7 linked regions of the Homo sapiens genome follow. The protein of the gene in region 3 purifies or fractionates together with the protein of the main gene of each other region. This does not show direct contact. Each region holds a gene or a part of one and is shown on either strand. Other genes may lie near its edges.

The links.
Region 1: the proteins of FOXQ1 (region 3) and RANGAP1 purify together in Homo sapiens (affinity purification with mass spectrometry; one large-scale study listed by BioGRID and IntAct). This does not show direct contact.
Region 2: the proteins of FOXQ1 (region 3) and ORC3 purify together in Homo sapiens (affinity purification with mass spectrometry; one large-scale study listed by BioGRID and IntAct). This does not show direct contact.
Region 4: the proteins of FOXQ1 (region 3) and PDS5A purify together in Homo sapiens (affinity purification with mass spectrometry; one large-scale study listed by BioGRID and IntAct). This does not show direct contact.
Region 5: the proteins of FOXQ1 (region 3) and PUM1 purify together in Homo sapiens (affinity purification with mass spectrometry; one large-scale study listed by BioGRID and IntAct). This does not show direct contact.
Region 6: the proteins of FOXQ1 (region 3) and ADNP purify together in Homo sapiens (affinity purification with mass spectrometry; one large-scale study listed by BioGRID and IntAct). This does not show direct contact.
Region 7: the proteins of FOXQ1 (region 3) and HEATR1 purify together in Homo sapiens (affinity purification with mass spectrometry; one large-scale study listed by BioGRID and IntAct). This does not show direct contact.

Annotation. Positions count from the first base shown.
Region 1 is NC_000022.11:41,279,642-41,283,549, forward strand, and holds part of RANGAP1 (ran GTPase-activating protein 1), read right to left. Parts: exon of another isoform or gene 3,146-3,908; intron 2,003-3,145; exon of another isoform or gene 1,901-2,002; coding exon of another isoform or gene 1,816-1,900; intron 1,572-1,815; exon of another isoform or gene 1,442-1,571; coding exon of another isoform or gene 1,404-1,441; coding exon 1,292-1,403; intron 1-1,291. UniProt on the Homo sapiens protein: GTPase activator for RAN. Converts cytoplasmic GTP-bound RAN to GDP-bound RAN, which is essential for RAN-mediated nuclear import and export. Mediates dissociation of cargo from nuclear export complexes containing XPO1, RAN and RANBP2 after nuclear export.
Region 2 is NC_000006.12:87,599,874-87,603,781, reverse strand, and holds part of ORC3 (origin recognition complex subunit 3), read right to left. Parts: intron 1,999-3,908; coding exon 1,901-1,998; intron 399-1,900; coding exon 254-398; intron 1-253. UniProt on the Homo sapiens protein: Component of the origin recognition complex (ORC) that binds origins of replication. DNA-binding is ATP-dependent. The specific DNA sequences that define origins of replication have not been identified yet.
Region 3 is NC_000006.12:1,310,741-1,315,263, reverse strand, and holds FOXQ1 (forkhead box protein Q1), read right to left. Parts: upstream 3,167-4,523; 5' UTR 2,560-3,166; coding exon 1,348-2,559; 3' UTR 506-1,347; downstream 1-505. UniProt on the Homo sapiens protein: Plays a role in hair follicle differentiation.
Region 4 is NC_000004.12:39,866,124-39,870,031, forward strand, and holds part of PDS5A (sister chromatid cohesion protein PDS5 homolog A), read right to left. Parts: intron 3,340-3,908; coding exon 3,271-3,339; intron 875-3,270; coding exon 738-874; intron 1-737. UniProt on the Homo sapiens protein: Probable regulator of sister chromatid cohesion in mitosis which may stabilize cohesin complex association with chromatin. May couple sister chromatid cohesion during mitosis to DNA replication.
Region 5 is NC_000001.11:31,062,631-31,067,044, reverse strand, and holds the start of PUM1 (pumilio homolog 1), read left to right. Parts: upstream 1-1,327; 5' UTR 1,328-1,429; intron 1,430-4,414. UniProt on the Homo sapiens protein: Sequence-specific RNA-binding protein that acts as a post-transcriptional repressor by binding the 3'-UTR of mRNA targets.
Region 6 is NC_000020.11:50,888,169-50,891,086, forward strand, and holds the end of ADNP (activity-dependent neuroprotector homeobox protein), read right to left. Parts: 3' UTR 750-2,918; downstream 1-749.
Region 7 is NC_000001.11:236,601,403-236,606,067, forward strand, and holds the start of HEATR1 (HEAT repeat-containing protein 1), read right to left. Parts: upstream 3,115-4,665; 5' UTR 3,020-3,114; intron 2,726-3,019; 5' UTR 2,694-2,725; coding exon 2,552-2,693; intron 1,975-2,551; coding exon 1,758-1,974; intron 1-1,757. UniProt on the Homo sapiens protein: Ribosome biogenesis factor; required for recruitment of Myc to nucleoli. Involved in nucleolar processing of pre-18S ribosomal RNA. Required for optimal pre-ribosomal RNA transcription by RNA polymerase I.

The sequences.
Region 1 (3,908 bases), on a different chromosome or scaffold from region 3:
AAAAAAAAAAATTAGCCAGGCGTGATGGTGTGAGCCTGCAGTCCCAGCTATTTGGGAGGCTGAGGCAGGAGAATCGCTTGAACCTGGGAGACAGAAGTTGCAATGAGCCAACATCGCACCACTACACTCCAGCCTGGGTGGCAGAGTGAGACTCATCTCAAAAAAAAAAAAAAAAGCCGGGCACAGTGGCTCACGCCTGTAATCCGAACACTTTGGGAGGCCAAGGTGGGCAGATCACCTGAGATGAGGAGTTCGAGAGCATCCTGACCAATATGGCAAAACCCTATCTCTACTAAAAATACAAAAATTAGCCGGGTGTGGTGGTGGGCGCCTGTAATCCCAGCTACTCAGGAGGCTGAGGCAGGAGAACTGCTCGAACCCGTGAGGCAGAGGTTTGCAGTGAGCTGAGATCGTGCCACTGCACTCTAGCCTGGGTGACAGAGACTCCATCTCAAAAAAAAAAAGTGATAAATGCACAGGGAGGAAGTCTATAAACGTTAGACCTTATGGAGATGTTAGGAACATGCATCAGCACGCTCCCAGCTACCCAAGGACTCAAGCAGCCTCCGACCTGGAGAGGAGAACAAGGCTGCCTACACAACATGACAACCAGGCATGTCCAGACCAGTTCCCCTGGTTGGGCCAGAATCCCAGGAGGCCTCACTTGATGCAGGTGCCTTCACTTGCAGGTGCCAGGTGATTCAGGGTTGGTCAGTGGCAGCCAAGCCTTGACAAGGGATGAAAAGACAGGGTCTGCTCTCTGGTTCCTAGTTTTCTGTGGTTGCAATACCTGTATACACACAGACAGCCATCCCTCTCCCAGGTACATCTGGTTGCATGAACCAGCATCTCCCAAGAGGGCCCAGGTTGTTTTAATGCAGCTCCACCAGAGCCTCAGCTCTGGGGAAAGCTGCAGCTATTCCCAGGCCTGCCTGGGATCATGGGGGTTAAGGGCAAGGGTGGGGACAACACCGGATATTAAGTCAGAGTCAGAGGCTGTATCTTGGGACTGGCACTAACTGTGGCCCCTCATTACCTATCATCCCCTCCTGAGAAAGAAAGGGCAGGGCACAAAGGGATGCCCAATACAAACATGGAAAGTGCAGGGGAGCTTGCTCCTGGGCAAATGATCTCTGAGCCTCATTGTTAGAATAGGCCCAATGATACCTCACAGAGCTGCTGGGACAAATAATGGAGACAATGTAGCAGAAAGAGCCTGACAACCAGTAAGAGTTCAGTACACTCCCTCTCCTCCCCTGGACACACCAGTGCACAACTTCCAGAAACTCACCATCTTCTGCAGTGTTGAGTTTGAGGCTCTTGCCTTTGAAACTCAGCTGTCCCCCGGCCACCTGAGTCTTGGCAAGTGTCTCTGCCAGCTTGGCAATGTCTTCCGAGGCCATGTTGACTAGGCTGGTGGGCTCCCCTGGAGATCTGCAGACTGAGGAGGCCAAAGTTGCAGTAAGAAAAAGGAGTCTCCTGGGGCCCCTGGTTGGGGGCAGGGTAGGACATCAGCCATCTCAGGAGTCTGACCCTACCTCCCCTGCTATGGAGACCCTAGAGATAAATCACTGGAAGAAAGGAAAACAGCATCAGAGAAGGAACAGTTCTAGAAGGTGCAGGAGGTAGTAAAAGAACAGAAAAATCATGTCTTAGCCTATAAGAAGCTACCATCTCATTACAAGTCCTCCTCTGCTAAACTGCCGCAGCTGGACACCCAGCAACACCATGTGAGCTGCCCATTTCCTGGGCCCCTTCAGTGAATGGCAGTCAAGTCCCAAACCAAAGGCTGCAGAGTCTGGCCCAAGCACACACCTGCTTGAGCATCTTGGCTGTTCTCTGTTTGAGGGTCCCATTCCTCAAACAGGACACAGATGGCTATGGGATCCAGATCATTCATCCCAGAGAATGCCCCACCACCCACGCTGGCATGACTCTGGGGTGGGGCACAGGGGTCAGCCCCACTGCACGTCTGGTTTCAACCGTGGCCGGGAGACTGGGCAGGCCACAATGGCCCCTCAGGGGTTTCTAGATCAGAGATCGCCACATCACAACAGCTACCATCATAATAGGACAGGGACAGGGCTGCTACCTATGAAGCCCTACTATACTCAAGTCTACCAGAAGATTTGGGTAGAAATGGGGTTGATAAGCCTCACTATTTATAAAATCAGGAGTGCTGGTAAAAGAAGTAAAGCTGGCCAGGTACAGTGGCTCACACCTGTAATCCCAGCACATTGGGAAGCTGTGATGGGAAGATCGCTTGAGCCCAGCAGCTCAAGACCAGTCTGGGCAACATGGCAAAATCCCATCTCTACTAAAAATAAATACAATTAGCAGGGTATGGTGGTGTGCACCAGTAATCCCAGCCACTGGGGAGGCTGAGGTGGGAGGATTGATTGAGCCCCGGAGACAGAGGCTACAGTGAGCCATGATCTCACCACTGCACTCTAGCCTGGGTGACAGAGTAAAACCCTGTCTCAAAAAAATAAAAATAAAAATAAAAATTAGCTGGGTGTGGTGGCACGTGCCTGTAGTCAGTCCCAGCTACTGGAGAGGCTGAGGCAGGAGGATCATTTGAGCCCAGGAGTTCAAAGCTGCAGTAAGCTATGACTGCCACTGCACTCCAGCCTGGGCAACAGCGGGAGGCTCTATCTCTAAAAGTAACTAAATAAATGAAAGAATTTTTTTTTTTTGAGACGGAGTCTCGCTCAGTCGCCCAGGCTGGAGCACAGTGGCGCCATCTGGGCTCACTGCAAGCTCCGCCTCCAAGGTTCATGTCATTCTCCTGCCTCAGCCTCCTGAGTAGCTGGGATTACAGGCACCCACCACCATGTCCAGCTAATTTTTTTGTATTTTTAGTAGAGACAGGGTTTCACCGTGTGTTAGCCAGGATGGTCTCGATCTCCTGACCTCGTGATCCACTCGCCTCAGCCTCCCAAAGTGCTGGGATTACACGCATGAGCCACCACGCTTGGCCAATAAATGAAAATTTTTAAAACAAGTAAAGCTTTGAGAACTCCTGCGCCTGCTCATGGTACTCCAGCTTTACTTGGAGTACATGTGAGATTAAATGTCTCAATGTGTACTGCCTATAAATTGAAGCCAGCTATATTAGACAGGAACGTGGAACATCACTACATACCTGAATAGTGTTTACTTTGTGGTATGAATAAACGTATCTGTGAGATGCTCCAAAAAAAGAAAAGAAACAGCAAGTAATCAGGAGAGACCAAGGAAGCAGATATGAGGGGCAGAACTAGGGGGTGCTATCCGAAAGGCCTCCTCCTACAACCTCCTCATTCTCAGATACAGTTGTGATACCCTGAATCCTCCCACCCCTAGGCTTCCTCTGGGTTCTAACTTATAACCCTGGTTTGTCTGCCTTTATCAATAAGCATGAATTATTATCCTGGGTAAGGTGTCCACTCATTCATTCAAAAACACATTGATTACTACTGTGTGCTGGATGTTGTTCCAGGTCAGCAGTATAGCAGTAAAGGAAGCATAAACCCTGACCTCTTGAAGCATATGTTCTAAATGACACATTTAGTATGTGATTTAAAAAAAAAAGGGGGGGGTTGGGGGGCCGGGAGTGGTGGTTCACGGCTGTAATCTCAGCACTTTGGGAGACCGAGGCAGGTGGATCACGAGGTCAGGAGTTCAAGACCAGCCAGGCCAACATGGTGAAACCCCGTCTCTACTAAAAATACAAAAATTAGCTGGGCGTGGTGGCACACGCCTTTAGTCCCAGCTACTCGGGAGGTTGAGGCAGGAGAATTGCTTGAACCCGGGAGGCGGAGGTTGCAGTGAGCCAAGATCGCGCCATTGCATTCCAGCCTGGCGACAGAGCAAGACTCCAACTCAAAACAAACAAATAACAACAACAACAACAAAAAGGCATTAAC
Region 2 (3,908 bases), about 86 Mb from region 3:
GACCAAAAGTTGGGGAGAACATTAGCTAGATAAATTCCTTTTAATTTACAAACATATGATCGTCTGTAAAGATAAGGAATTTTTATTGGTTTTTGAAAATATGTAATATAAACTATAGTTGGTTTAATTGTACAAATAAGAGAGACAAAATAGGCTCATCAAAACAGGTCCTTCCACTATTCTCAACAATAAAAAAAAATTTAAAAACGAAATACACAGAGATGCATGCATGAACAAACATACGCATATATACCAAGAACAAGAGCAGCAGTTGGAATTTCTCTGAGTTTTATTTGACCGCCCAAGTCTCTTGAATTCTTCTGGAATCCAGAATGTGATTTTTGCAGAAATTCAATCAGATTGTCAAACAAGTTTTTATTTAATTCCTCTTGTAGTCGCTACAAAGAACACACAAAAACTTATTATTATTAGAAATAATAATCTGATGTCTTTCCTGGTTGTGGAAAGAAAATTGTCATGGATTCAATGATGTAAAATGATCAAAAGATGAACCTAATTAAAAAATGTTTTTTCCTTAAATCTCTAGTAATTAGTGCTCTGGGTTCCCCCATTAAAAATTCCCTCTCAAGCCTGGTCGGCATAGTGAGACCTCATCTTTTTAGATAAAAGACAAATTAGCTGGGTGTAGTGGTGCACATCTGTGGTCCCAGCTTCTAGGGAAGCTGAGGTGAGAGGGTCACTTGAGTCTGGGAGGTCAAGGCTGCAGTAAGCTATGATCATGCCACTACACGCCAGCCTGGGTGACAGAGCAAGACCTTGTCTCAAAAAAAAAAATTGTATATATATATGTATATATATATATATATTATATATGTGTATATATATATAAACGTGTATATATATATATAATATATAATATATATATGATATATGACATTAAAGGGTTTGGATTTTGTCCTATGGGGAGCACCACTGAAGGGATGTGAAGTAAAGACATAATTGGATCAGGGTTAAGAAGGGTTAATCTGGCAACAGGGCTGGAGGGGTTGCCTGGAATTGGGCTGCATTTGCCTTGAAAAGGGTCTTTTCTAATTTGGCCAATGGTGTCAGGGATGCCAGTCAGGAGGATATAACAATCCAGATTCAGAAATGAAGACGGCCTAAACTGGAAACCACAAATTCAAATACCTTGAAGGATCACATGGAATACGTGAATGAGCCTTTGCTCATTACCACTAGGTGTAAATCAGTAAGGACTGGTAGGCGGCAGTAATAAACTGGAAAGTATATAACCTTCCGAAAGGCAATTAAACCAAAAACTACAACACTGTGTTGGCCAAAAAAAAAAAAAAAGTTGTCAGCCTAAAATGCTGGCCCTAGAGCTACCAATTTGCTATAGTGAAGAAATGTTTCAGAGCTGGAATATAAAGATGAGAAAGTGAAGGAGTTTAGAAACAGCTTGATTTCACAGTTGTATACCTGAAAGGATAATTTAAGAGCGTCACCATTTGAAAGCTCCTTGCCTTAACAGCTATCATAAACATCTGTTCCACTCACAAGAAATATGAGTTTTTTTTGTTTTTGTTTTTGAGACAAGATCTCTCTCTGCTGCCCAGGCTGGAGTGCCGTGGTACTATCTCGGCTCACTGCAACCTCCACCTCCCAGGCTCAAGTTATCCTCCCAACTTAGCCTCCTGAGTAGCTGGAATTACAAGTGCACACCACCATGCCCAGCTAGTTTTTGTAGCTTTTGTAGAGACAGGGTTTCACCAAGTTGCCCAGGCTGGATTATGGTTGTTTTTTTAAGGATATACAGGCTATGCTTGACCAATACTTCCTATATTTCATCAATACTCTTGTAAACTGGTGGAAAGGAAGATGAGATGCAACAAAAATGAGACTTAGGGTGTTACAGAAAATTATTAAAAAAAGTATTCACCTCATTTTCAGATTTCATCTGCTGCCATATCAACTGATAAGTTTCGAATCGAAGCTTACTGTCCTCAGGCTCATTTTTCCCTTTGTTAAAATAGTCCTCTAAAAACAGAAAGAAATAAGTCAGTTTCTTTTTTCATATAATAGTATAAGTTATAGATCTTACGTGCAAAGTTACACAGTAAGTGACAGAAGTGAAATTTTTTTTTTTTTTGATATGGAGTCTCACTCTGTCACCCAGGCTGGAGTGCAGTGGCATGATGTTGGCTCAGTGCGATCTCCGCCTCCCAGGTTCAAGTGATTCTCTCCTGCCTCAGCCTCCCGAGTGGCTGTGACTACAGGCACGTGCCACCACGCCCGCTCAATTTTGTATTTTTAGTAGAGATGGGGTTTCACCATGTTGGCCAGGCTGGTCTCAAACTCCTGACCTCAAGTGATCTGCCCACCTTGGCCTCCCAAAGTACTGGGATTACAAGTGTGAGCCACCTTGCCTGGCCTTAATTTTTTTTACATTCATCAAAAACATATATTTGGGGACAGGTAACATTCAATATCCTCTGTATTTCATTTTTTATAATCTTTTATTTTTACCATATTTATGGCATATTTAAGATTAAAAATGTCAATCTTTCTACTGTATTTCTATCATTTGCTTTTTAATTTCTAACAGTTTTTATTAAGTGGCTTTTTTGAGTTATATACATTTAATAATGTTTTCATTATTTGCTGTTATTCTACAACCTTGTATACTTTGTTTCATACATTTGCTTTGAACTCTCCTCTATTGAATGACTTACTACTACTATTCTTACATTTTTCCACTGACATAGTTTAGTCCAGTCTTTCATTTATTCTGTCTGTATATTTTTGTATCCTTTTTGAATGCTTTCTCCAAATGGTTAGCTATTTGTGAAAATACCATTTATTGCACTGGCTTTCAAACTTTTCAAACTATAATCCACATTAAGGAATACACTTTATATCATAACCTAACACATATACACATGAACAAAAACTAAAGTCACAAAAAACAACACTCACCCTTATTATGTAATAGCAAATGTTTTCTTTCCTGTTTTATACTCATAGTCCACTAAATTGATTTCATAACTCACACATAAATTATGACATTTGGTTTGAAAAACCCTCCTTTATTGTACAATCCATCCTTCTCCCGCTGATTTGACATGCCCTTATAGTCTAAATACTTATATATACTTTGAACTATGTTTGAACTTTTTATTTTGTTCTACTGAATCCAACCCTATTCTCCTACCAGTCTTGAACTGTTTTAATTATTATGGCTTTGTATGTTGTACATTTTATCAAATACATTTAGGTCTTCCTCCCACTGCCCCCAAACATTGTTATTCTCTTTCAAAAAAATTTAAGCCACTTCTTCAAATTAATTTTACAGTAATCCTGTCACTTCTCAAAACTAGTTGTACTGGTATTTGACTAGATAAAATCAAATCCATAGACTGATTTGGGGAAAAATCCCATCTTTAATATGTTAAAAAATCCCCAACCCCAATATCACAGGTCTCTTTTTTTAATCAAATATTTTAGATTCCTTATAGTTTTCTACTTTCCCTCATATTTCTTGTTGTTTACTGCTACGTATTTTATTGTAACAACTGGAGTGTTCACGTTAAATTTCTGCTGCTAATAATCTACCACCAAGTTTTAATGTTAACTGATAGTTTGGAATATAAATTCACTTCATGTTAAGGAACTTCTCTCCTAATCATAGTTAACTCAGAGTTTTTAGCAACTATTGATTTTTAATTTTATCAAAAGCCTTGGAATACATTGAAGTCATCGTACGGTAAAGTGGCAGACAAGGTTATAGAATTAAAATGCCAACAAAAAAAGAAAGCAAGGAGACACTATTATTACTATTACTATTATTTGAGACAGGGTCTCGCTCTGTTGCCCAGGCTGGAGTGAAGTGGTGAGATCTCAGCTTACTGCAACCTCCGCCTCCCAGGTCCAAGTGATTCTCCTGCCTC
Region 3 (4,523 bases):
ATGGTTTTGTTTTGACAAAAACACTATGACATTTAAATTGCTTTTGAAATTGCCCTGAAGACACCTTTGATATTTTAAGATAGTCTTATGACAAAAAAGTTGTCAAAAAAATTGGGGCTCCAACTTTTTGAGCCCCAAATCGAAACCAATTTACCTGAAAATATCTGTTTGACTCTAGGCTTGTTAAGAACTCAACTTGCCTGCTAAGGATTCTTGGGGGAGAGAGGGACACTTCCCTCTCATTTGTTCTGGAAGCACTTAGGTGACTAATTAGAGGAGTAATTGGTTTTCAACTTTTAAAAAGCCCATGAATGGAAGTCCTATCTGGAAATCTGTCTAGCAATGCATCTCATACGGAAATCTGCAAGCCCATTCTATAATACCTTTATCGAATTATTCAGGAAAATATTTTTATCTCCAGAGGAAGTTTCTTGAGACCAAAACCTGAGCCCATTTTTTTGGGAGGGGGGACAGACATAAAAATCTCTCCACTTCCAACCCATCATCACAATGTGTTAAGTCAGTTGTTTTATTAAAAAATAAGCACTATGCTTGGGTTTCATAAAATTTATACATGAATATGTACACAGACACAAATAAAATAATATTAAAAATAAAAATCACACTTGCTTTCAAGGCAGTGGTCCTGGCACCCCACATACATAATCAACTTTTCCTTTAAAGAAATTGCTTGGCCCAAGGAGACCACAGTTAGAGAACCACTAATAAAGCTGTAGCCCGTTGCCTGCAACATTTTCAATTCGGGTTTCAAAAATATATAAATAATTTAATTACAAAACCCAACATTTTTTTTCTCTTTTGGCACAGTGAAGCATCGGTCAATAGCAAGAAATCACTGAAGAGCCTCTGACATGTCTCTCACACTCAGTCATACCTGGAAATGCCACATACGTACACGGATGGGGGCCCAGAAACCCCAAACAGTAGTCATATCATTTATAGTGTGGAAAGGTTCCCTGATGTACTTAGGGGGGAGGGAAGGGACATAAATCAATGGAAGTTGCGACAAAAACAGTAGAAATAAGACGAAGCCTGGGCGTTAAAGAAAGACAAAAAAAGTCCTTATGAAGGGAAGGAGGAGCAGGCTTCGCAAAGAAACTAAAACAAGAATTGCTTTGGTCCTCTGTAAAGTTATAAAACACAAAGGAAAATATCCTGGACTAAGTTTAAATACTCCTGTCAAAATGCTTTAGCTTTAAGGCACGTTTGATGGAGATTTTAAAAATTCATCTTCCTCTGGATTCAAAGTGCAAAGTCCGCGCGCGGGCCCGCGTTCCCGCCTCCCCGACGGCGCGCACTCGGCGTTCCCGGGCCCCGCGGCGCTACTCAGGCTAGGAGCGTCTCCACCGGGTACGGCAGGTGCGGGCCAGGGCGGCGGACTGAGGCCGCCTGCAGGGCTGCGGGCAGCCGCAGGGGGCAGTACAGGTGCGCGCCGCCGGCCGCCGGGCCTCGGAGTGGCTTGGCGGGGGCCGCCGCCGGGAGAGGTGCAAGCAGGAGGGGCGGCGCGGTCGGTGGCACCTCGGCCTCGCGCGCGCCCAGCCGCGCCGGCTCGCCCGCGCCGTACGCGCAGAGCGGCAGCAGGGCCCTGCAGGGCGCCGCGGGGAGGAGCGCGGGGAACGCGGGCAGCGGCGGGCAGGGCGCGGCGCCCCACTGAAGCGTCGTCCCGGGGGCCGTGTCCCTGAGGCGGCGGCTGCGGAAGGGCTTGCGCAGGATGCTGTCGATGGCGAAGGAGCTGGAGAACTTGCCCGCGGGGCTGGCGCGCTCCTCCTGGCGGGCGGGCGAGCGCATGCGGGGCGAGGCCGGGGCGGCGGGCGCGGGCGGCGGGGCGGCGGGGAGGCCCGGGGCCTCCTCGGGCCGCAGCCCGGGCGCGGGGACCGGCGCGCGGTGGCTGAGGCGCTTGCGGCGGCGGCGGAAGACCCCGTCGGCGAAGGTGTACTCGCTGTTGGGGTTGAGCATCCAGTAGTTGTCCTTGCCCCAGGGCCGCGAGGGGTCGCGCAGCACCTTGACGAAGCAGTCGTTGAGCGAAAGGTTGTGGCGCACGGAGTTGCGCCAGCCCGTGTAGCTGCCGCGGAAAAAGGGGAACTTGCCCATGAGGTACTCGTTGATCTCCGCCAGCGTCAAGCGCCCGCCCGCCGAGTCGCGGATGGCCATGGCGATGAGCGCGATGTACGAGTAGGGGGGCTTGGGCCGCCGCGTATATGGCTTGCTGCGTGCACCCTCGCCGCTCCCCGCGCCGCCCGCGCCTGGCCCCGCCGCCCCGGCCTCCGCGCCCTCCGCCACCACCGCTGCAGCAGCTGCTGCCGGGATCGCCTCCTCCGCGCCCGGCCCGCCTCCCGCACTCTGTTCGCCGTCGCCCTGCGTATCTCTGGCGCCGCCGCCCGCGGCCGGGCTGTTGGCCGCGCAGTCCCCATCTGAGCCCAGGGAGTCGTCTCCCGCCGCCGACAGCGGGGACGGCGCGTCGCTGCCGCCCGCGCCCTCCAGGTCACTGCCCTGCTTGTCCCCGTGGGCCGCGCGAGGGACGAACACCTCCAACTTCATGCCCGCGCACCCAGTCCCTCCCCGGCGTCGTACCCTCTTCCTTCGCGCAGCCTAGAGAAGCTGGTGCCAGGGAAGGGGATGGCGATCCGGGGCCGGGGATCTTCGCCTTTTTCTCCCGGGAGCTCTACCCTGGTCTTCCGAGATAGTCACTTTTCCGGAGTCCTCTTCCGCTGGGCTTTTTCTCTGGAGGGGCTGCAAGTGTTGGGTGGACTATGGGGCGGAGAGGGAGGAGTTGGGTGGGTGTCGCCTTCGGTTCGACGTTGAGACTTTGGGGTGAGTGTGTGCAGGGGCCGCGGTTCCACCCTCGGGTGCCCGAGCACGCCGGGCTTAGAAGGCTTTCCTGCCGGAGAGAAGCAGCATGCGCATCTGCTGCTCGTTAAAGAGCCCAGGAGGGGTTCTTCACTGGCGGTCCCAGGTCCCGCGCGGGCGTCTTCGGGGCACGGAAATGGTGCCGGATGATGTGCGTGCCACCGTGGGGGAAGGTCCGGCGCCTTCAGCCTTGAGCACCCGCGGAGGCGAGTCCCCGAGGCCGCTGCGCCCGCAGCCGCCTTCCCGCTCCCAGCCTCCGGGGCAGCATCTCCCCGCTGGCCTGCCGCGGCTGCGTCTCGCCTCCACCTTCGGGCCGGCCCAATATAACCCTGCGGCGGCTCCGCGGGGGCGGGGCCTGAGCGCGGACGGCAAGGGGTGGGGGAACGAGGTGGCCGAGGTGGTGGCGGCTCCCCAGTTCCCCAGCTCCCCAACGGGCGCGCACCAGGCGGAGGCCACACTGCAGCGCGGCGGCAAAGTCGCTGGCGCAGGTTGTTTGTTTTGGGTCGGCCGGCCCCGCCTTCCTCCTCCCGCCAATGGGGAGCGCGCGCGCCGCTGTGGGTTTGCGCGTGTCTGTGAGTGTGCGTGTGTGCGCGCGCGGGGCCGCTCCGCCAGCCGGCTCCTCCGTTCAGGTGTGGGCCCCAGCCCCGGGCAGCCCGCGAGGGCTCCCTGCGCCCTGGAGTTCGGGGACGCAGTTTAGGCGAGTGCGCCTGGTTGGGGGGACACGCCACAGTTCCCCTAGGGGGACACCTGAAGGGACTGGGTCTAGGGGAGCAGGGACTTTGCTCGGGCCTAAGCTGCACGCGGCGTATGTGCTTCTGTAGTAGTGAAAACGATGCTGCTTACGAAAGCAAACCCCTGTCGTCACTGCAGAGGTGCTGAACAGAAATTGCGCAGGACACTTGCAGTGACCTCTTTCGGGAGCCTTGTGCTGTGCCCCTTCCTATGAGCTCCTTTCAAGGACCATCTTGTCTTTTCCTCTTGTTTTAATGAATGCACTCCTGGGCTTGAAATTGTATGCGCCTTTTTGGATGACCTTTACTCTTGCTCACTAAATGGGCTCCGACTTTCACTTTTCTTTGTCTTACTTTACCTTTTTCTTTACCTGGCTGGTGACTCCTGCGGGAGGACAGCAGCGTCCTCCTCTTCCCCTGGGGCGGCTGTGTCTGGCGCAGGGTGCTGGGCTGTGCCTGCACTTGTGTCCCTGCGGAAGCCTCAGATGCCGCCGAGCTCCGCCGCTTGGTTCCCGGGATCTGACAGTCAACAGGAACGACGGAGAGGGCGTGTTCCCGGGGGCGGGGGCAAGAACAAACCGGTTCACGGCCATTTCTTTCCAATATTCCTTTGGGACTTTTGCTGTGACCTCACTGGCACCAGTGTCGGACAATCTCGAAAGGGGGGACCGTTCCTCACCCCAGGGCGCCCGGGGCGTGATCCCCACGCGGCGTCATTAGTCCAGGGAGCGGGCGCCTCGGCCCCGGGAAGGTGCACTTCCAGCCCGCTGCCCTGCCACGCCGAGTTTCCTCCTTTTTCCTGCCTTTGTTGCACAAAAAGCGACGGAGCCGCTAGTAGGTGGGAGCTCACCTTTGATGTTTATTTTATTACTTTCCACCATTTGTGTTGAAAACGTACACAATCCTCTCTTATCTTTATTCAGG
Region 4 (3,908 bases), on a different chromosome or scaffold from region 3:
ATTTATTTTGAGACAGGCTCTCGCTCTGTTGCCCAGGCTGGAGTGCGGTGGCACGATCTCAGCTCACTGCAACCTCTGCCTTCTGGTTTCAAGCGATTCTCCTGCCTCAGCCTCCTGAGTAGCTGGGATTACAGGCATGTGCCACCATGCCTGGCTAATTTTTGTTTTTTGTTTTAGTAGAGACGGGGTTTCACCATATTGGCCAGGCTGGTCTTGAACTCCTGACCTCGTGATCTGCCCGTCTCGGCCTCCCAAAATGCTGGGATTACAGGCATAGGCCACCGCGCCTGGCTGCCACTTAAATTTTTATTACTTTCATGGGACTCAAGTCACTCCACTTATTTAATCGCTTTAATACAGGGATGCTCTTTGAAGGCAGGGACTTTTCCTACTTATTTTTGCTGCAATGCTTTTCACAGTGTTTTATGAAGTAGAAGTTTAACAAATACTTGTTTAATTGAACCAAATGTTGATGCTAACTGTAATAGTACAATATAGTGATTATGATTATGTATTTACTGGAAAAAGTTCCTCTTCTTTAGGAATGAAGAAAAATATATTGGCACTATTAAAATAACAATACTGACAGACAGACAAACCCTAAATGAGTACATAAGATCTGACCCTGAAGATCATGGTGTAATTACACCATTCAGTATTCATTAGGTAAATAATTCCTATGTAAATTCCACCAAAATTTCAGCACTAAGAAAACTGGAAAGAAAGAAAAATCTCACCTGATCCTCTTTTGCTCTGTCAGGTCACCCTCACTAACCAACATCGCTGATAATAACCGAAGGGTTGAATTGGCAGATTTAGACTGGTTGTTTTTCATACCCAACAGCCACCTTACCAGAAGTTTAATTGCCTGTACCTATAAAATATTAACATGCTAAAAAAAGAAAGCAACTTAAAATTCCAATTAAAGGGAAAATTAATTTAATTAGATTAATGAGATTACTCATCTCCATCAGCAGACATTTTATTAAATAAGTCTATGGGATAATAACAGCAACAATACGAACTAATATTTACTCTGTGCTTAACCAGTGCCAGGCACTTTTCTTAGATCTGTAAATGTATTAACTTATTTAATCTCCCAAAAAATTCTTATGAGGAAGATTTTTTTTTTTCCAACAGATAAGGCAATTGAGACACATTATTATCATAGATAACTTGCTTAAAAGTCTGGTTCCAGAATTTAGGCTTCTCATACTTAGATGTTTGTGCAAGATTTTGAAACTATTTGAAAACATATACTTTAAAAACAACAATTTAAACTATACAGGCCGGGGGTGGTGACTCACGCCTGTAATCCCAGCACTTTGGGAGGCCAAGGCAGGTGGATCACTTGAGGTCAGGCGTTTGAGACCAGCCTAGCCAACATGGTGAAACCGTGTCTATACTAAAAAACCCCGTCTCTACTAAAAAAAAAAAAAAAAAAAAATTAGTCAGGCATGGTGGCACACGCCTGTAGTCCCAGCTACTCAGGAGGCTGAGGCATGAGAATTGCTTGAACCCGGGAGGCAGAGGTTGCAGTGAGCTGAGATTGTGCCACTGCACTCCAGCCTGGGTGACAGAGCAAAACTCTGTTTCATAAAAAAACCAAAACACACACACACACACACACACACACACACACACACACACACCCCACAACTGTACTGATTGTGGTGACTGAAAATAACTTGAGAGTTTCAGTTTTGTGGTATTGAAAAACTACTTTGAAGAAACCATCAAGTCTGATTCAGTCTCATTTAACATTGTGACCAAAAAAATGGGATTTTGTGTAATTATTGGTAGTCATAATTACTTAGAAATGTCTAGTCAAAAGATTGTTACCAATATATGTGAAAAAGCTAGCCAAAAAATCAAAGTATTATTTATTATATTTATTGACAACCTGGAAAAATGAACTGATAGAATATATGATGACTACAAAGCAACACAAAGTGAAAGATTATCAAAGAAGATGATACAATCTTATTTTAAATCCCAAATCTGCCACTTTTCAACTGAGCTTTACATCTATTAAATGTCACAAATTTAGTAACAATCATCTCTATCTGCTCTGTCACCCAGGCTGGAGTGTACTGGCATGATCACAACTCACTGTAGCCTTGACCTCCTGGGCTCAAGCGATCCTCCTGCCTCAGCTTTCTGAGTAGGTGGAACTATAGGTATGCACCACCACACCCGGCCAAATTATCATTATTATTATTTGAGACCGAGTTTCACTCTGTTGCCCAAGCTGGAGGGCGGTGGCGGGACCTTGGCTCACTGCAACCTCTACCTCCCAGGTTCAAGTGACTGTCCTGCCTCAGCCTCCGAAGTAGCTGGGATTACAGATGTGCAACACCATGCCTAGCTAGTTTTTGTATTTTTAGTAGACAAGGGGTTTCACCATGTTGTCCAGACTGGTCTTGAACTCCTGACCCCAAGTGATCTGCCTGCCTCAGCCTCCCAAAGTGCTGGGATTATAGGCGTGAGCCACCATGCCTAGCCCAACTAAATTATTTTTAATATTTTGTAGAGACATGGCTCACTATGCTGCCCAGGTTGGTCTTGAACTCTTGGGCTCAAGCGATCCTCCTGCTCTGCCTCCCAAAGTGCTGGGATAATAGGTGTGAAAAACAAATCAAAGTATTATTTATTATATTTATTGACAACCAGGAAAAATGAATTGATAGAATATATGATGATGATGAAGCAACACAAAGTGAAACAGATTATCAAAGAAGATGATACAATCTTATTTTAAATCCCAAATCTGCCACAGTGCCCAGCTTGACAATTACCTATCTTTGCCAAGTTAATATTCATATGCTTGTAGATAGTGGTGATGAGGCTGGATTTAAGATGCCTCTGAGCACCGTCATTCTATAAACAGTCTCTCTATAAAACAGCCTCATTAAGATTGCTTTAGCAGGCAGAAGACACTGACATGTAATAAACAATGACAACCACAATGTCTTCAATAAACCATTTTTTGCAATGGATTTTAAAATAAAGTACCTCCTTAACAAATGCTTATTAACTATTAGGTTTAATTAAAAAAGGCTCCCAGCTAGGCACGATGGCTTAAGCTCATAATCCCAGCACTTTGGGAGGCTGAAGTGGGAGGATCAGCTGAGCCCAGGAGTTCAAGACCAAACTGAGCAACACAGCAAGATCCCATCTCTGTTTATTAAATTTTTTAAAGGTGAGGAAGATAACTACAAAATGTCCCTTTTTTAAACATGAAGATTATCAAGGCCTAAACAAATTTACCTTTGCTAGTACTTCAGGGGAAACCTCTTCATCTGGAGACCACAGTTTTCCATTCTTTTCACCTGTTGACTATAGACAATTGAATAAATTTAGCTATTAGCATGAAAAAAAAAATTTATGTTTTTGCTGATTAAGTTTTTCATGTTGATCAACACAGCCTCTGAGAAACCTACGGGAACATCACCAACCAGAGCTTGGAAAAGGACAAAGTTAGAAGACTCATACTTCCCAATTTTGAAACTTACTATAAAACCTACAGTAATCAAGACAGTGTGGCTGGTACTGGCAAGGATAGACATATAGACTAATGGAATAGAGAACTCAGAAAACCCTTGCATATATGGTAATTCATTTTTGACAAAGGATGCCAAGACCATCTTTAGTGAAAGAACAGTCTCTTCAACAAATGGTGCTAGAAAAACTGGATATTCAGCCGGGTGCAGAGGGTCAAGCCTGTAATCCCAGCACTATGGGGGGATGAGGCAGGTGGATCACTTGAGGTCAGGAGTTTGAGACCAGCCTGGCTAACATGGCAAAACCCTGCCTCTTCTAAAAACACAAAAAAATTAGTTGGGCATGGTGGTGCATGCCTGTAGTCTCAGCTACTCGGGAGGCTGAGGCTGGAGAACTGCTTGAAC
Region 5 (4,414 bases), on a different chromosome or scaffold from region 3:
ACCTCTGCCTCCTGGGTTCAAGTGATTCTCCTGCCTCAGCCTCCCCAGTAGCTGGGACCACAGGCGCCCGCCACCACTCCCGGCTAATTTTTTTGTATTTTTAGTAGAGACGGGGTTTCACCATGTTGGCCAGGATGGTCTTGATCTCTTGACCTCATGATCCACCCGCCTCGGCCTCCCAAAGTGCTGGGATTACAGGCATGAGCCATCGCGCCTGGCCGTGTACTGCAAATATTTTTTATCCATTTGTTCTACTTTGTTGATGGCATCTCTTCTCGTACAGATGTTTATATTTCTTTCAATATTTTCTTTTATGATCTTTTGACTTTGATTCATGAGTATAAACATTTTCCCTCCTCCAATTATAGAGCTTCTCCCCATATCTTCTTCTGGTCTTTTACAGTATTGCGATTTGTCTGTTTTCAATCTATTTTTTTTTTTTTTTTGAGACGGAGCCTCTCCGTGTCGCCCAGGCTCAAGTGCAGTGGCGCGATCTCTGCTCACTGCAAGCTCCGCCTCCCAGGTTCAGGCCATTCTCCTGCCTCAGCCTCCCGAGTAGCTGGGACTACAGGTGCCCGCCACCACGCCCGGCTAATTTTTTTGTATTTTTAGTAGAGACAGGGTTTCACCATGTTAGCCAGGATGGTCTCGATCTCCTGACCTCATGATCCGCCCGCCTCAGCCTCCCAAAGTCCAGGGATTACAGGCGTGAGCCACCGCGCCCGGCCTTCAATCTATTTTGAGTTTAGTTTGAGACAGTAAGACTAAAAGCACTTAACATACATTATTCCACTTAATCCTCCAGGCCATTCTGTTAAGTGGGGGTTATTTTCTTCTTCATTGTACAAATGTGGAAATGGAGGCAGGTCGATTTAAATAAGGCCGCAGAGCTAGAAAGCTGCAGAGAAGGGGTTTGAACCCTGCACCTCTGGGGCCAGGGCAGTGCGGGTGGCCGTCCGCGAACCCTGCTAGCTGTGGTGCTCGGGGGCAAGCTTCCGAGGGCGCGGCGGGCGCGAGGAGCGCGTCCGAGACTCGGTGGAGCGTCACCGGCGCAACCCCGCGTGCCCAGCTCCAGGCCGTGTTCTCCCAGGTGCGGGCCGGCGGGACCCCGCCTTCGGCCCTGGCGGCGCGCGCTCGCCTAGCGGGCGGGCACTCGCGCGCAGCGTTTGTGTTGCCTGCGAGTTTCCCGAGTTCACACAGGCCCTGGGTTGGCATGGCAACCAGGCAACCTGTTCCAGAGCCGCCAGCCTTCTCCGCACATGCCGCTGCCACCGCCGGGGCCGGGGCCGGAGCCTATCCCAGGATGCACCGCGCCAACCCAGTCCCCAGTGGGCCGCCATGTTGTCGGAGTGAAAGGTAAGGGGGAGCGAGAGCGCCAGAGAGAGAAGATCGGGGGGCTGAAATCCATCTTCATCCTACCGCTCCGCCCGTGAGTATCCGCACCCCACCGGCCCCAAACGCTGCTCCGGACCCCTAACGAGCAGATTGTCCCTTCATATTGGTGTTTGAGAGTGGTTGTGGGGGTGAGAAGGGCTTTGGAAAAGCCGCCGGGGCCCTGGCTGAGGCTTCTCACTCGCTGTTCCTCGTACATGTTTTGGAGTCAGCAGCAAGGCCCCTATTGTTATCAAAGGAGGGAGGGGGTGGGGAGCGGGGTCGAAGCTAGGAAAATGCTGGGGGTTTAGGCCCGAGCCCAGGGCGTAGACGTGCCTCTACATTTTTGCCTGGCCCTGTTGGGAACCACCGAAGATTGATGTTGCCATTCGGGTTGCTTTTTTTGATGGGTTTGCGAAGCCCCGAGTCTTCTGTGTGGCCATGAAGTGTAATTCTGTGCCACCCCGATTTCTTCGACTTCTTGAGCTTCCGTGGCAGCGCCGGAGGAGGAGGAACAATAAATCGCTTTAGAAGCAGCCGTGGCCCTTGTCCACAGGCGAGATTCACCGTGGGGGAACTTTGCGAGCCTTAAATGTGGAGAAGTGGCGATCAGGAAGTTTCAGAATGCTTTTTAGGCTCCTGGGTTGCTGTGGCCTTTTGTTTCCGTGTGAGCTTGTGTTTTTGGTGGGTTCTTCCTTTTTGAGCCTCCCGGTGTTGGTGTCTCTCTTCACTCAAAGAGGGGTTCACCCCTTGCTAGTAGGAAAATCTAGATACACAATACTAGTTTTAGTCCTCACAAACATGCTTGGTAAACATAGATCATTTGTTTTACTTGTCAGTACCATTCCCACGTCAAGTGAGGAATACACTCCTGTAACTTTTCCCTCCTATAGCCCCCCCCCCCCCCCCCGCTGAAAAAACAAAGCCAGAAACCCACACACAGCATTACCAGAGAAGGCTTTATTCTCCCGTAACTTAGATTGTTACCTTTTATTGTTCAATTAAGAAAACACTGTTCTCAGCCCTCGATACCATTTTGCTCAATTCCTGTTATTACTGGGATTAATTAAGAATAAGATTTTATGAAGCTTTTCCTGGGTTCTGTTTTAAAGTCAGTTAACTTCTGAAACAATAGGCTTAGCATTTTGTTTCTTGAAAGCACCTAAAAACTTACTAAGACAGGCCCAACCCCAAGAAATGTGGCTTCCGATGCAGTTTTCGTAAGCAAAATAAACATTTTGACCCTTTGCTAATTTTAACTTTATAAAACACTGGGGGGCTGTTGATTCTTTATCTGGGCTCTTGGGAAACGCTCTCCGGATTCTGAACTTTGAGTTAGTGTTTTGCTTTAGCGACAATTGAATTCATTTTGTTCAAGGCCACAGCTTTTTGAAGTTGGAATTTGTTTAGTTTAGGTTTAAAATGAACTGTTTTAAGATAAATTTATGACCACAGAATGTTTGTTAAGTGTGGTAAAAATAAACACCTTTTAAACCACTAAGCATTTTAGTAAAAGGTGAGCCATGGAAATAAAGTAAACCGTGTTCCTTTGAATTCAACTCAATTAGTGATATTTTAAAAAACTTTGTAAACATTTGAAAGCTGTGAAAGAGTAGCTGGACTGAGCACTTCTAGTTGCTTAAAGTACTTATAAGGTGTCATTTGTAAAAAAATCACATTTTAAATGCTACACGTATTAGTGAGCTTTTCTGATATTTAGGATACTGAGTTTTTAATTTTTGTGCCGTATTTGCCAAAATACCACAAAACTACCCAAGATAACATGTTAATTGCTTAGGTATTTGCTCACTTTGAAACTGTTCTGCCAGGTTTTCTCTGGTTTGAGAAACTGCCTTGCCTCTTTAGGTAAAGCAGGAAGTCTTAGGGCATACAGATAGCTTTACAAAAGCCAATTGTTTCGTTTGAACATTTTTATAGGAGTCTTTTCTTTCCCCCATTCCTTTTAGAATGAAGGTGTGTTTAGTGTGCGTCAGTGATAAACTCCTCTTTTATGTGGATATTCTTTGTTAGATAACTTTTTTCTTTTAAAAATTTTTATTTGTATAATTTGTGAGGTACAAGTGTAATTTGTACATGCGTGTATTGCGTAGTGGTGAAGCCAGGGCTTTTTGTGTGTCCATCACTGGAATAACGTACATTGTCCTCCTTAGGTAATCTCTCATTATCCTTCTCTCAGCCTCCTAGATAACTATTTTGAGAAGGCTTTTATTTCAGAAAAGATTGCATTTGCTGTTTTAGGAATTCTGTTAGGGACTGGAGTTGCCTTAACTAGGGGTAACTAAATTCTAAGAGTCTTAAGCACGATGACTTTAAATTTACCAAAAACTTTTATATTTATCTCATTTTCATTAAGAAAAACCCAAAACATTGAGAGTCATAGAGGAAGGATTTCTTTCATTTTCTAGATGAGGAAACAGGTAGTTTTGTTTAGTGAAAGAACTTGGGTTTTGGAACTCTTGGCCTGCTCTAGAACAAAGATTGTTAGGTCGAGATTTCCTTTTAGAACAGAATGGGACTGTCTAGTATTAGTACTAAGAGAGTAATGAATTCTTTAAAAAACCAAGCAGGGAGGCATTAGGCTGGTTTGCACTTTTGAAAGACCGATGGTGAAACCGGGCTATGACTTTTTGGTTTTGGTACTTGAGCAGGGACTAGTGTCTAGGTTAGACTACTCCAGTACCCTGCTAAGGTTCTGATGGATTGGAATTCTTAACCTAGACTAGGCATTTCCAAATTAGGCTTTAAACAAATTACAAATTCCATTGTGTCTTCTTAGGCTGGCTTCAAAAACATGAATTTAGTTGTGAGAAGCAAATGCTACTTTATCAGAAGGTTTATTTATTCAACAGAGAGATAGTAGATTTGTTATTCATGTGTTTTTGAAGCATCACAGTGGGGGTTGGGAGAAGAGATAAAGCATTTGTAGCAGTAGACTGTTAGGCCGATGGCTTTGAAATTAGACCGTGGCTGTGGACAGGTGTGTCCTAATTGGTAACTGATTTATTTACTTTGTAGCTTTTTT
Region 6 (2,918 bases), on a different chromosome or scaffold from region 3:
CACGGTGAAACCCTGTCTCTACTAAAAATACAAAAAAAAAAAAAAAAAAAATTATCCAGGCATGGGGGCACGTGCCTGTAGTCCCGGCAGTACTTGGGAAGGTGAGGCAGGAGAATGGCTTGAACCCAGGAGGCGGAGGTTGCAGTGAGCTGAGATGGCGCCACTGCACTCCAGCCTGGGCAGCAGAGCAAGACTCCATCTCAAAAACAAACAAACAAAAAAACGAACCACCTAGTGATAATTCTTGAGTCTCATCTCGAGGACTCAGTACTAGTAGTCTGAGGTCTAAGTAGTAAAGGAACTACACTTCTGTATGGTAGTACTTATTTGGCAATAAGCAGGTTTGTTTCTAGCGTGAAGCATCTCAGATGGGAAACTCCCATCTTTAATACATCGCAGTTTTCAAATTTGGCACTCATTTTGTTCATGCCAGAAATGGATGTTACAAAGGAGTAGGCATTGGGATCAAACTGACATACAACTCTAGAGCGATATGAGGCATAGATACCCTTTCTGCTTGAATTGCAAGAGGGAATGAAGCTGTTTGATAAAGATTCTCCTCTCCCTATACAATGACAAGGAACCAAAGATAGGATGAGAAAATGCTCTATGTGATGAACAGGGAAAGAAGCCACAGTCCTAGCTTGTCTGAGTGAACTCATTCCCACGAGAAAACCTGCAGGGCCAAAAACACGCCTCCCCACCCCCTTCCCCCGACACCCACAAAAACAAAACACACCAAACCTCTGTAGGATACTTAGGTTTTCTCATGTTAGAAGTGTTCAGCCTACATTTACAGGCATTCTCTAATTAGGTGGCAGCACGTTGCCATAGCCAACGATCTCCAGATTATTTGAAAAGCAAACAGTAGCAACAATATTCTTTTAAAATGGCTTTTATTGAGACACTTGTAGGGATTCTGCAACATTTCCAGTTGGGAATCTTTATTTCCAACTCTTAGGGTGGCTAAACCCTTTTCTGAATGCCAAAAGGCACACTCTCACCACCTTAATGAGGAAACACACTTATCTGTGTCTGTTCCGATATCCAACTGGGACCTGGACCCCAAGCCCCGTGGTGTCTTGTACAAGTCTCATTAGTCCTCCACGTACAACTCAGAAGCCTGTTAATCAGGGAGGGTAATTTCCAAATAAATGTGAGCTGGCCTAAATCCAGCTGGTTATTTCTGATTTGGTAATCTGTAGTATCTTAATTTGGGGACATCCTGTCCTAAGTTTTGGCTGGTGCATGTAGAACTTATAATCTACCTGTATAACAACAGATGCAACATAGCTCCGTTCCAGCCCCAAATTCCTTAAAGGTTCTAGTCTACTCTTGCACTTCTTCCTGTACTGTTGTTGAGAAGCTTACATTTTAGGGAGAGGCTGGTCAAATCTCTACTCTCTGGTAACAGCATTAACAAGAGTCTTTCTTTTGGAAACAGACTCAGAAGTTATGGACATCAGCCACTTCAGACTTCTTTAGGCCACTATCCTTGAGGTGACTGACCAGCCTCCTCATGGATTGGAGTTTCCCATCATTGTTTTAATTGCTGGAAATGTTGGCCTAATTCTGCTTCCTTGTAACTTTCTGCTTTTTAGTACAAGTTCTCTTGGGAATCTACGCATGGTAAAAATACCAGCTCCTTCCATCTTTACAGCCCTGTCAGTGCTGTGCTCTTCAAAGCCTTTCCCTTAATAGCAAGAGGGCCAAGAGTGGCAAATAGAGGCAGAGCCGCCTGCACTACAGTTGTTCCCATCGTAAGGTGAAAACGAACGTTTAACTTCATCTAGAAGAAAAAACAAACAAAAAACCCATCAGGCTATTAAGATTCTGCTTGCAAATTAATGCCAATCCATGTTTACATTTTTTTTTTTATCATTGAGACATTTACATATATATGCAGGCTCTGCTCCTTAACAAAAGGTGAACTGAAAAACTCAAGGGTGTTTGTTTTTCAGTTAAAAAAAAAAAAAAAAAAAAAAAAAAAAAAGAAAAACAGATTTTGTACCAGGTGCCTCAAGAGAAAGCATTCTATTTGCAGATGACAGATCTTGGGTTTTCCACAAGTTTCCTCTGTGACTGTGGCTGCCATCTCTGATGAAAGAGTTATGGCATTAAATGGCAAAAGATATAATGGACACACAGGACTGTCATGTGTAATAAAGCAAATATTTACATTAAGCACAATACAGCAATTTATTTAGATGCTTAAAATGAATACAAAGGGAAAATAAAGATCACAAAATTATACATACTACAACAGTGTGTCATATATTAGATGGTATAAATGAATCCACCATGATGGTGTTGAACTAAAGATAAAACTAAATATCCAAAATGCAGCACTCATTGGTTTGCTGCTTCAACACAACACACTTTTATACAGATCTAAAAGGTGTCAAAATTAGTAGCTGCAAAGTCAATTCTTGCATGTGATTTTAGCTTAAAAGATTTCAGAAAACAGATCTGAAATACCAGTTTTTGTTTTTGACAGCTGTAATGTCAAGGATATTCAGAACAAGAAAAATCCTATAATACAAGAGAGTCCAGATATATATCTTACGTGGCTGGCCTCTGTTGCAAGATTGTACAAGGTTATGTGCAAAAACTAAGTCTGTCCAAAAAGTCCATACTAGCGCAGTTTTGAGCTTTTGCTAGGTAAACTAGATAGAGCGTTTATTACACAGCAAGGGCAACACTAAAAAAAGAAATCTATGATGGGCACACAGTAACAGGATCATGAGCATCACTTGAATAGGTCTAAAAGACTGTACAAATATACATTTCAACTATTCAGAATGAATACATGAAAAAAAATCGCTTTTCCCAAAGTCTACTATACACATTAGACTGGTAGCTTGTATGTTGGCCCTACACTACCATGTGAATTAGTTTAACACTTCTCAAAGACATCT
Region 7 (4,665 bases), on a different chromosome or scaffold from region 3:
CGCCCAGCTAATTTTTGTATTTTTCACACAGACAGGTTTTACCATGCTGGCCAGGCTGGCCTTGAAGCCATGTCTCCAATTAATGGAATAGAAATCTACTTTTAAAACATGTAAGTTGGACTGGATGTGGTGGCTCATGCCTGTAACCCCAGCACTTTGGGAGGCCGACTCGGCAGGAGGATCGCTTGAGGCCAGGAGTTCCAGACCAGCCTGGGCAACAAAGTGAGACACTGTCTCTACAAAAAATGGAAAAACAAAAACAAAAACAAACAAACAAAAAAAAAACTAGGTGGGCATGGTGGTGCATGCCTGTAATCCCAGCTACTTGGGTGGCTGAGATCGGAGGATCATTTGAGCCCTGGAGATCGAGTGGGCCACGATCACACCACTGCACTCCAGCCTGGGTGAGTGAAATCCTGACACTCAATAAAATAAAAATAAAAAGACAGCCGTGTGCAGTGGCTGTGGTGGCTCACACCAGCACTTTGGGAGGCTAAGACGAGTGGATCACGAGGTCAGGAGTTTGAGACCAGCCTGGCCAACGTGATGAAACCCCATCTTTACTAAAAAAAAAAAAATACAAAAAATTAACTGGGCGTAGTGGTATGTGCCTGTAATCCCAGCTACTTGGGAGGCTGAGGCAGGAGAATTGCTTGAACCTGGGAGGTGGAGGTTGCAGTGAGATGAGATCGTGCCACTGCACTCCAGCCTGGGCGACAGTGCGAGACTGTCTCAAAAAAAAAAGACATACATATTGGGAGAATAAATAAAACAAAAATGTGTATGCTGTGATGTGACACCAATATGTGAGAAAATAAACTAAGCTTACTGAGACAATTCCCAAAGCAGATAAAAGATCAGACCTTGGAAATAAACTTCAGCTGTATCCTAGCTCTGCCACTTACTAGCTGTGTGACTCAAGAAACTTAATCCCTCTAAGCCTCAGTTTTCTCAACTGTAAAACAAGGATAATACAAATAATCTCACCAGAGGAATGCTGTGAGAATTAAATGAGATAATGCAGATAAAGTGCTTACCAGGGCCTAGTGTATAAATGCTCAAAAACACATTAGCTATCATTGTTTTTCTCAAGCAATGGTATTTCAGAGGATAACATTGCCTGCTTCCCCAACCATCTTGTTATTTTGCCAAGAAAGCAGCTTAGTACTCACTGCCTCAAGTGTGCAGGAACAAGCTGTAATGGCAAAGTAGCATGGGCTCTTCAGAACTAACGAGGTTAGGCTGGGCGAGGTGGCTCACACCTGTAATCCCAGTATTTTGGGAGGCCGAGGCGGGTGGATCACCTGAGGTCAGGGGTTAAAGACCAGCCTGGCTAACACGGTGAAACTCCATCTCTACAAAAACACAAAACTCATCCAGGCATTATGGCAGGTGCCTGTAATCCCAGCTACTTGGGAGGCTGAGGTGGGAGAATCACTTGAACCTGGGAGGCAGAGGTTGCAGTGAGCCAAGATTTCAATATTGCACTCCAGCCTGAGTGCCCAGCAAGACTCTATCTCAAAAAAAAACTAATGAGGTTAGACCATTTACTCAAAATCACCAGTAGTTCTACTTTTCACTATCAACAAAAAAGAATTTAAAGGCAGAAGAGCATGCTTATCTCACACAATGGACATTGTATCAATCTCTTAATATACCTAATTTTTCAGCTTTAATTTGATAAGTTCTCAACTACTTAATTTTTTACAAGACCAAAGTGATTAACCCATAGTTATTTCTGTAATTCTATTAGCTACCTGTGAATCAACCACTCCAGACACTTCTGTGCTGGCTTAAGCAGGAAGTAAGGCGACAAGTGAATAAGGAATAATGAAATGTTTTCATCCAACTGTTTGTTTACTGCTTTGGTCTGAACACTTCGCTCCAAGGTTTTTGCTAGCTGACTGAACAACGGTGCTTCAAACTGCTCAAAGGAAGGATCAATTCCAAGCAACTCTTCCAGGCCAGTACATCCTAAATTTCAAAAAAGGCCAGTTTATTTAACAATTCTTCGTAAGCAAATTCATCCCACCCCTCTTTTACAGTTTTACTTACCCCTAAGAAGTTTCTGAATTCTTTAAGTACATATAATTTATAATACAGTCCCAAACACTGATTTCTAGTTTTCAACTTTTAGAGTAAATCCTATCTCATCTACTAGAACAGAAAGTACTTCGTGGCAGGGAACACTTTTTTTTTTTTTTTTTTGGATATCCCCTACAATAACTAGGCCAGTCCTCTGAGAGGACTTCTCCGTCACCCCAGTCACTGCCTCCATCCCCCTTTTAGCTGTTCTTCTCTTTGACATATTAGTTGACCTCTCTAATTTTGTTTCTTCATCTGTGAAATCCAGATACCTCTACTCATAAACATTTCAAGCACCAAGCACCTGACTGTTATGTTCTCTTTCCCTTAAAAATATACATCAACATGCTAGAAACTGCTAAGGAAGAGGACGGGACAGAAGAGAAAACAAGGGGAAAAAAAAAAAACAGTAACATCCAGAAAACAAACGCTTCCAAGAGCTTTTCTAAGTTAAAAGATGGCTCACCAATGGCGAAGGCGGTGTCCCTGTCGATTGTGGCCGCTTCCTTAGGGTCAAATAACAAAGAAGCAACTTCATCTCTAGATAAGAGGCTGGCATCACTTTGAGGGAGGGCGAGTCGTTGCAGCTGCTGGGCTAAGGACGTCATCTTTCACGCCAGCGGAGTTTTAATGACACGGGCTAAAAAAACGTAAGCACTTTGATAAGTTTCTACGAAATTATAAGGCGCCTCGTAAACAAACAATTCTCTTCTGCACTCAGCACCGTCATGGACACACAACGCGGGTGTCCTGAGATTTGTGGACCCCGGAGATGCAAAGACGATGGCAGCAGCGTTAACAACTAATTACAGTAGCGGCGACCGCGCCAAGGCTTTCCTTCAACCCTGATTCCGCAGATATCCGGAAAACTCTTACCCTCCCTCGATATGCCGCCCCCATCCGCAGCCACATCAAGCGGCTCTGTGCCGCTTACCTGGAACTGGGAATTTGGGTATATCTTGGAAGGCAACAACTCTTCACAGCGCTTCCCACATGGTACCAAGGAGCCCAACCCTCACCCGGAAACCTAAGGCATGCTGTAGAGCAACTTCCTGCTGCAGGCGCTACGGCAAGTGAAGAGGTTCAAGCTTGCCGGGAATGCGACGAGACAGCTCCGCCTCCCGAGACGAAAGCCCGCCCCTCAGCCCGCCGGACTCAGGCTCAAGTCTGAGCTTCGCCTCTGTAGCTCCGGTTTAGCGGTCTGCTCTGCGGCTTGTGTCTGAAGCTTTCGGTCTCTGGATGGGCCTTCTGTGGGCTTTAAGGATCCGTAGCCAGAATCATTCATTCAGTAGTGATCCAGCCTTTACTAGGTGCCAGCAGCACCGCGTAGTGTTGAAAGCTATGGGTTGTGAAGTCACGTGGTTTGGGTTCAAATCCTGGCGCTGGCGCCTGTCGGCCGGGTTAACGCCACCAAATTATTTCATCTCTCCGAGCTTGTTACTCACTCTACAAAGTGGGAAGAGGCCGAGATTGTCGTGAAAGGAGCTTCTGCTCCTAGTGCAAACCGATCTATAAATGCTGGACTCCACCGCCCCAGAGCTTGGGGGAGATCTTGTCACTCCTCTATGTTTCCATTCCCGAGGGGTAAATGGCATATATTTTTTTCTTTCAAAACGAATCATAGTCAGGCGCGGCCTGTAATCCGAGCACTTTGGGAAGCTCAGGCGAGCTGATCACCTGAGGTCAGGAGTTCGGGACCAGCCTGGCCAACATAGCGAAACCCCGTCTCTACTAAAAATAAAAGAATTAGCCGGACGTGGTGGCGGGCGCCTGTAATCCCAGCTACTAGGAAAGCTGAGACAGAAGAATCGCTGGAACCCGGGAGTCGGAGGTTGCAGTGGGCCAAGATTGCACCACTGCACTCCACAGAGCGAGACTGTCTCAATAAATAAATTAATCGAATCCTGTTGAGGTATAATTTACAAACAATGGTTACACCCACGTCAGTGGAAGAGTTTGATGACTTTTAGCAAATGCATGTATAGGTGTAATGACCTCCCCAGTCAAAATGACAGTTTCCATCGCCCCTAAAAATTGTCTCTTGCCTGTTTGCGAAGATTCCCGCAACCACTGGTCTTGGCCTCACTACAGATAGTGTTGCGGAAGAGTATCCTTATGTATGAATATAGCTAATCTGTTTCCAAAACACCGGTATGCGCTAGAACTAGGATGAACTGACGTCTTCCAGACGAAGGAGTGAGATCTGATGCTCTGTCTTTTCTGGATGCATTAATTTCTCTGAAGAGCTCTGCGGGGCCAGGGGGTCAAGTCTTTCTGTAACCGTCTTCCCTGGAGAATGTCAGAAACACAGCTACAAATTTGGAGGCCCTGGTTGTCTATACCTCATGCAGATTCTCTCCCATTTACAAACAGAATCTTTTGTTGTTGGTTTGCTTTAAAAGCATTTAAAACAACCAAATATTTTCTTCAGTTATTAGTATTTCTACTGACTGTTAATAATCTTCTTTTCATGTGGTGTTGAGTGCCTTGCAGAGAATAACATGAAAATTCTAGTAGTACCTATTTCATTCTTACAAACATATCTCTCAAAGGAATTTTTTTTTTCTTTCTAACATGTCA